Linked DNA regions of Homo sapiens. The protein of the gene in region 1 interacts with the protein of each later gene in a pairwise test. Each region holds a gene or a part of one and is shown in the gene's direction. Other genes may lie near its edges. The genes, in order: CROT and MLYCD.

The links.
Region 2: the proteins of CROT (region 1) and MLYCD come close enough for resonance energy transfer, tested with the Homo sapiens proteins (one large-scale study listed by BioGRID).

The regions. Positions count from the first base shown.
Region 1 is NC_000007.14:87,351,928-87,355,747, forward strand, and holds part of CROT (peroxisomal carnitine O-octanoyltransferase), read left to right. Parts: intron 1-3,820. UniProt on the Homo sapiens protein: Beta-oxidation of fatty acids. The highest activity concerns the C6 to C10 chain length substrate. Converts the end product of pristanic acid beta oxidation, 4,8-dimethylnonanoyl-CoA, to its corresponding carnitine ester.
Region 2 is NC_000016.10:83,897,612-83,901,531, forward strand, and holds the start of MLYCD (malonyl-CoA decarboxylase, mitochondrial), read left to right. Parts: upstream 1-1,503; 5' UTR 1,504-1,533; coding exon 1,534-2,061; intron 2,062-3,920. UniProt on the Homo sapiens protein: Catalyzes the conversion of malonyl-CoA to acetyl-CoA.

The DNA.
Region 1 (3,820 bases):
TGTTTACCCTGCAATAGAGACTTAACCCTTGCCTTACGTGATCTTAGATTCTATTTATAATTTGGTATTTTATTGCCATAAAGAGTCTGTTTTGTCAATCTTATGATTTCTATTTTAATGCTAAGCTAGTCAGTTGTGACTGAATTCCAAGAAGAGGAAAGATATGGCAAGTCATGTCCAATCTCCCTGCTTCCCCTCATGGCCTGAATTAGTTTTCAGGTGTTTTGGATGCCCTTTGGCCAAGAAGAGGGTCCATTTTGTTGGGAAAGGGCTTAGAACTTTTAAAAACTTATTTATTTTAGTTTATAGTTCCCCTTTTTTTTGTTAAGGTATGCCATCAATGGCCAAGCTCTTATTTTGTCCAGTATTGATGTCAGGGTGGTGTGCTACCTGCCCTGGATCCATCATGTCCCTTGGTGGGACCACTATGGCCAAGGGACTTAAACAAAAGACTTATGGCCAATTAAACTTTCTAGGCCAGATGGGAATGGAGGTGGGCAGGCACTCCTTAACCTTAAAACCCCTTTTAAGCAACATAAGAGCCAAAAGCCAAATGGGACGGTTATAAAATTTGCTTATTTATAAATTCTATACATTAAGCTATTTTAATCTTGACTTGTAGCAATTAGCCATATAAAATACAACATTTTGTTCAGCTATAGAGGCAGTTTGCCTGACCTTGATTTGGAGGGTCTGAATTGATTTTATTCCCCACAACAAGCCCTTACAATCTCATGTGGTAGTCTCTGGGCCTGGAAGGACTAAATAGTTTCAAATTATAGAGGAAAACAAAACATAAGGAATTAATGTTTTAAACAAAAATGTCATAAGCCCTACCTAGTTATGAGAATGACATGAAAAGAAGCCCATACGTAGCCAAATACTTAAATTATTTAATATCAAGGCATAGAAAATTATATTCAGATATAGGCAAAATTATTAAATGAATCTTAATGTTTTGAATACAGGCCTGTCCCTATGTCTCTGTCTGTAGGTCTCATGAAAATAGTTTACTTTGATTGTCCAGGTCTAAAGACAAGGCTTTGATTAGCTTCAGCTTGCTATCAGATACTGGCAGGAGTCAGTGCCTTCTTTAGATGAGCTATATGTACTCAGGAGTCAAAGCCCTGTAACTGTAAGGCACAAGGATTAGTTAATAGCACTTGATAAGGACCCTTTTAAGGAACTAGAGGGAGTCCTTTAACGGATTTTTTTTCTTTTATTTTTCTTTTTTTTTTGAAACATGGTCTCGTTCCGTTGCCCAGGCTGGAGTGCATTGGTGCAATCTCAGCTCACTGCAACCTCTGCTCCCTGGGTTTAAGCAATTCTCCCAACTTAGCATCCTGAGTAGCTGGGATTACAGTCATGCACCACCATGCCCAGCTAACTTTTTGTAGTTTTAGTAGAGATGGGGTTTTGTCAAGTTGGCCAGGCTAGTCTCAAACTCCTGACCTCAAGTGATCCGCCTGCCTCCAGTTCCCAACATGCTGGGATTACAGGTGTGAGCCACTACGCCTGGCCCTTTAACTGATTCTTTTCTAGTATATATAATTATCAGGGTGGAGGTGGTATGTGTTAGGCCATTTTTGCATTGATATAAAGAAATACCTGAGGCTGGGTAATTTATTTTCAAAAAAGAAGTTTAATTGGCTCACAGTTCTGCAGGCTATACAGGAAGCATAGTGCTGGTATCGGCTTCTGGAAAGTCCTCAGGAACCTTACAATCATGGCAGAAGGTGAAGCAGGAGCAGGCACTTCACATGGTGACAACAAGAGCAAGAAAGAGAGAGTGACAGTGAGGAAGAGGTGCCACACACTTTTAAACAACCAGATCTGGTGTGAATCAGAGTGAGGGCTCACTTGTCACCAAGGGGACAGCCCAAGCCATTCTTGAGGGCTCTGCTCCCATGATCCAGCCACCTCCCACCAGGCCCCACCTCCAACACTGGGCGTTACATTTCAACATGAGATTTGGAGGGGACATCCAAACTATATTATGGTGATAATGGAGTTCATGGTGTGACTAAAAGCTGTAAAAAGATTCTACAGTCTTGTAGTGATTAATTTTTATAACTTTAATAAATCCCAGCAATAAGACTAAGTCAGAGACTTAATTTAGGATTTTGATTTTGAGGCTGTTTATTAAACATGTTAAAAGGCTGAAAACATTTGATCAAAACAGAAGCAGAGGTCATTGTAAAATAATAGTTACTCATTTAGCCAAAGTGATAATGAAAATGCTTTAGAAGCAATACAGAAGGTTACATGATGTAAAAACCTTAAGCCTTTTAAATCTTAGTTTTGGCAACCAAAAAAACCTAATAAAGACAGCATAGGAATTATACAATCTTGTTTCTTAAGACAGTTACCAAAAAGGCAAAGAAAAATTCTGCAGTGTGACTACTTCTGCTTATGGGAAGCCCATTTAGATAACCTGGACATCAAACCTGATGAAAAAAGTGCTTGGATTTAACTGGACCTAGGAAGAGTATATTCAAGGTTATGATTATAGCATAGGATTACCTCACTCTTAGGAACAGCATTAGTTTTTTGATTACATTGACAATTTAGATGTATTTTAAAAGCCAAAAGTACAGAATCAAGTTATACTAGAGGTAAACATTGCTTTTCTAGACCTTCAAGATAAAATATTTTAGCATTAGCTCATAACAACAGTAAAATTAGAACTGGAGAAAAAAAAAGTTGATGAGAAAGCTGAAGGAAAGAATTATCTCAGACCTCAAAAAAGCAAAAAGCAGTGAGACACAGTAAAAGCTGAACTTCTGGGATATGATTCTGAGACTTTTTAAAAGAAACAGTTTATAAAAGTAAAAGTAAAATTTCTTGTAATTTTATTAAGAGCAGATTAATACCATAAAAAAATCTTGTTTTAACATCGGGGACCAAAATTTAGAAAGACTTATTTATAAATGATTTTCTTTTCACTGTAACCAATTTAATCACATACAAAATTCCTTTCATGAATTCCCCTTCACAAATCTTATCATGACTTACACAAACCGTCTATGACATGCTTGGACTTTCTGACTTGTTCTAAACTTCTCTCTTTCCTAAATAATCAGTCATTTTACTTTAGGACAAAAATTTACCATACAAGATACTTTTTCATACAAAAGTATTCCCTTCTGTATAACCTTTCTTACCAAAAATATGTATTTTTTTTTTTTTTGAGATAGGGCCTCGCTCTCTTGCCCAGGCTAGAGTGCAGTGGCAAATTCACGGCTCATTGCAGCCTTGACAGCCCAGGCTCAAGTGATCCTCCCACCTCAGCCTCCCAAGTAGCTGGGATTATAGACATGTACCACCACACCAGGCTAATTTTTGTATTTTTTGTAGAAATGGAGCTTTGCCATGTTGCCCAGGCTGGTCTTGAACTCCTGCCCTGAAGCAATCCACCTGCCTTGGCCTCCCAACGTGCTGGTGTTACAGACATGAGCCACTGGGCCCGGCCAAAAGTACATTTTTATATTCATAACTTTCTTCACATCTCTCTCTCCCTACTTGTTCCTTTTTACCTTCTTTCATAGGTAAATTTTAAATAAGCTCTAAATTATATAAAATTATTATTATTTTTCAACTTGGAGAATGTTCACTTCCCTCAATTGAGAGATGCTGAATTAAATAACCCAAAGAATGAAAATCATCAAGACCAGAAAAAAATGACAGGTGTAAACTTCAGGGCATGCAAGCACAGGGCGACATGTGTCACTAGCGAGACACAGACAGCAAATAACAGCCGATTAAGAAACAGTAGGTACTGACAAATACAACTCTGAGACTCAAATAGGTTATCCAACTC
Region 2 (3,920 bases), on another chromosome or scaffold:
GACGCCTAGAGAAAAAAGTATAAACACAGAGAAAAAAAAAACAGAAGCCAGAAATTACATAAAAAGGAAGGCACCGGGAAAGATGAGAAAGAACAGGGTTGTGGGAGTACTACACTTAGCAAATGCTTAAGCAAAGTCAAGCTTTCAAGACAAGATTCCTAAAGCAAGGCAGGAGTATCCTAGGACAGACAAAAGCTCACTCGACAAGGCAAAGAGACAAACACCAGAGTTTGGACCCCACCAACTCCCTTAGCCAGCTGGCAATATGGTTTCACCACTTCTTAGAAAAGAGGAATGGAGAGGTGTCCTCAAAAGCCACCACTAGGCTTTCAGAATGTTTTGTGTGTCTGTGTCTTGGCAGAATGAGCCAAACGTACTTTCTTCGTGCCCCATAAGATGAGACACACCCAGCAAAGGCTGTCCTCATACAGAACTACCTCCAGGTGTCTTTTATACTGCAAGACCTGCACCAAAGGGTTCTACCTATAGAAATCCTAGCACCTAGACATAGTCAACCAAGTACATGGCTCCCTCACCCTCCAACCAAAGATGCCATATTTCCATCAGAGTGGAACAAAATCCCACTGTGTTCCTAATGCCTCCTGCAATTTTGCATGTGGGAGACATGGCTGGTATGTGACATTCTCTTCTACAGATTGTAATGGATTGGGGAAGGAGGGGGAACTAGAGTTCAGGCCTATCTTTCTAGAGGACAAAATAAATATGCCTTGATAACTGCAATTATCTGAAAACTATTTCAAAGAAAACTCTTTGTCTCATTCTGGCATTTGCTCAAGGGTATGGCTTTCCATCAGTCTCTCTGTCTCCATGTCTCTTTTACATACATATGTATGTGTATATGCGTGCGTATGTGTACATACATCCATACATATAGACATATTCTCTCTCTCTCCACACACACTCACACACCCCTCCAACCTCTGTGGCTCTGAGCGTCATGTGTGTAAGACACTGACGCGAATGGTGAGTGCCTAGGCAGGGGTCAAACAAAGGCTACCTACCATGCCAGAGGATTGCCACAAACACCTCTTAAGCAAGCATATTCCTTGGCTCCTCCCAGACACACTGAATCTGAATCTCTAGGATTCTGATTTCGGAGCCCAGGAATCCTCCGGTGCAGGAGTTCCCAGGTGACTCTGATGCACCGGGAGGCTGGAGGCGCTCGGATCTAGAGAGGAGGCGGCACTTGTGCAGTGCAGTCGGGAAAGAGAGGAGGGGCTGGGCCGGTGCCTTTAGGCGGTCAGGTGTTAGGACCGGAGTACAAGCCGCCAGCCGCGCGGGAGCAGGCCCCGAGGCAGCCCAGCCGCGGGGCAGTAACCTTTAGCCACACTTGGCCTCCGGCCGCCGCCAGAGCCGCTCCGCCCCCGCCGCCTCGCCCCCACCGCCCCGCCCTCCTATTGGCCGCGTCCCCAGCCGGGCTCGCGGCCTCGGCCAATGGGGCCGGCGCGCGCCGGAAGCCGGAAGCGCGGCAGCGGCGGCGGCGCTCCCCCTCGGCAGCTGTTGTGGGGCACCATGCGAGGCTTCGGGCCAGGCTTGACGGCCAGGCGTCTCCTCCCGCTGCGGTTGCCCCCGCGGCCGCCCGGGCCCCGGCTGGCGAGCGGGCAGGCGGCCGGCGCCCTGGAGCGGGCCATGGACGAGCTGCTGCGCCGCGCGGTGCCGCCGACGCCGGCCTACGAGCTGCGCGAGAAGACACCGGCGCCCGCCGAGGGTCAGTGCGCGGACTTCGTGAGCTTCTACGGTGGGCTGGCCGAGACGGCCCAGCGGGCCGAACTGCTGGGCCGCCTGGCGCGGGGCTTCGGCGTGGACCACGGCCAGGTGGCGGAGCAGAGCGCCGGCGTGCTCCATCTGCGCCAGCAGCAGCGGGAGGCGGCGGTGCTGCTGCAGGCCGAGGACCGGCTGCGCTACGCGCTGGTGCCGCGCTATCGCGGCCTCTTCCACCACATCAGCAAGCTGGACGGCGGCGTGCGCTTCCTGGTGCAGCTGCGGGCCGACCTGCTGGAGGCGCAGGCCCTCAAGCTGGTGGAGGGGCCGGACGTCCGGGTAAGGGGCCGCCGTCGATCCCCCGGCAGCGCGGACTGGCCGCCCTCCTCGAGTAGTCCTCACTTGCCCCCTCCAAGTCCCACACACCCCGCCTTCCCTGCCCGATAGCACGCTCACTTCGCCCGCAGTTACCGCCTGCCAACTGTGTCCCCTTCCCACGCTGTCTGAGTCCTGGCCTCGTCAGAGCACACCCCCGCCTTCCTCCAGTCTGTCCTTGAAGTCCTCACTTGTATAGTGTTTACTAAATACTCAGCACTTGGTGGTCTTTAAGGTAGCTGTCACCTCTCGTACCTGATTAGTGTGTGCTCTACAGTCTTTTGAAATTATTGTAGCTGAGAAGTGTTTCATCTATATGGTATACCTGAACTAGAGCATCAGGCAGCCTTCTGAGACCCTGGATGGTGTTTCAGAAGTTCACTGGGCACCCGCTATGTGTGAGACATTGTCCTGAGAAGTCCTGTGAAATGCACAAAGGTAAATAGGACTCAAGGTCACCACCACCACCCAGGAGTCTCCATGGCTTCTGGCCTTGTCTGTGCTCCATGACTTTTGGGAGGGCATTTAACTCCCTGCGTTCAGTACTTAATGTGATGATTCTGAGTTGACTTGAGGTAATCAGGCATTAGCACAGTTCATTCATGTTAAATGCAGACACATACTTTGAGATTTAAATGATTATGACCCGAAAGAAGGCCTAGAGCAACATATACTCTTCTTTTATACTGTTAGTATTAAATACGGCGAAAAACTAACCTGCCCTTTTTTTATTTTTATTTTTGTTGCCCAGACTGGAGTACAGTGGTGTTATCACGGCTCACTGCAGCCTCGACTTCCCCAGGCTCAAGCAATCTTCCCACCTCAGCCTCCTGAGTAGCTGGGACTACAGGTGCAGGCCACCATGCCCGGCTAATTTTTTTTTTTTTTTTTTTTTTTTGTAGAGAGGGCGTTTCACCATGTGGCCCAGGCTTAACCTGCCCTTTTAATGAACGAAAAATGACGTAAATGTTTCAGGAAGTTTTGGACATTCAGAAGTTTGTTATGTGCAGTTGGTGTTAAAAAAAAATTGAACACTTGAATGATTATGACTTGACCCATTTAAGAACTCTAATACTGGTTTAATAGTTTACATTCCTTCAGTCTTACGTGGGTGATAACACGTATCCCTTTTACAGTAAAGGAGAACATGCTGAGGTTGTGTTACTTGTCCTGAAATTCAGAGCGAAAAGCTCTTGCTGATCACCCACCCTAATCCAGGGTTATTTGCACTACGCTTTATATCACTGTCTTACCGTTAATCAGATGTTTATTAGAAACTTTCTTTTTTGGCTACTTAGATGCATAAAATTGGGCATAATTAAGTATGGGATTAATGTCAAGAGTGACAACAGTGGCCATGATTTGATTCCCCGTGATAGCTGGTTAATTTACAGCGCTAAGTGTTACTGAGGGCCAGGCATCTTTGGCCGTAAGATTCTCAGACAGAAAGCCCACAGTTGCTAATTGCATGACACAGAATCAGTCATGAATTCTTACTGTGTTGAATTATCATGTTCTGGGCTCAAGCCTAGTCTGAATAGCTGAGTTTTTCTGATCCACACTTGGACATAGTACTTGCAGTATATCATCCCCCCATGTAAATGATCAGCTCCTCGAAAACTGGGAAACTTGTCTTTAAATTTCTTGCATAGCAGAATGATGAATGAATCATTGCAATAGATTCCTGGGTGTCCTGGCATAAGACACACTTGACACACTAATCATTCAGCATTTGTGTGGAGGTGAGTCTGCCCCACACTCAGTCATAGATTTTTGAGCCTGAGAGAAAGCCATGAAGGACTTGAAAGGTTTCTGCCCAGCTG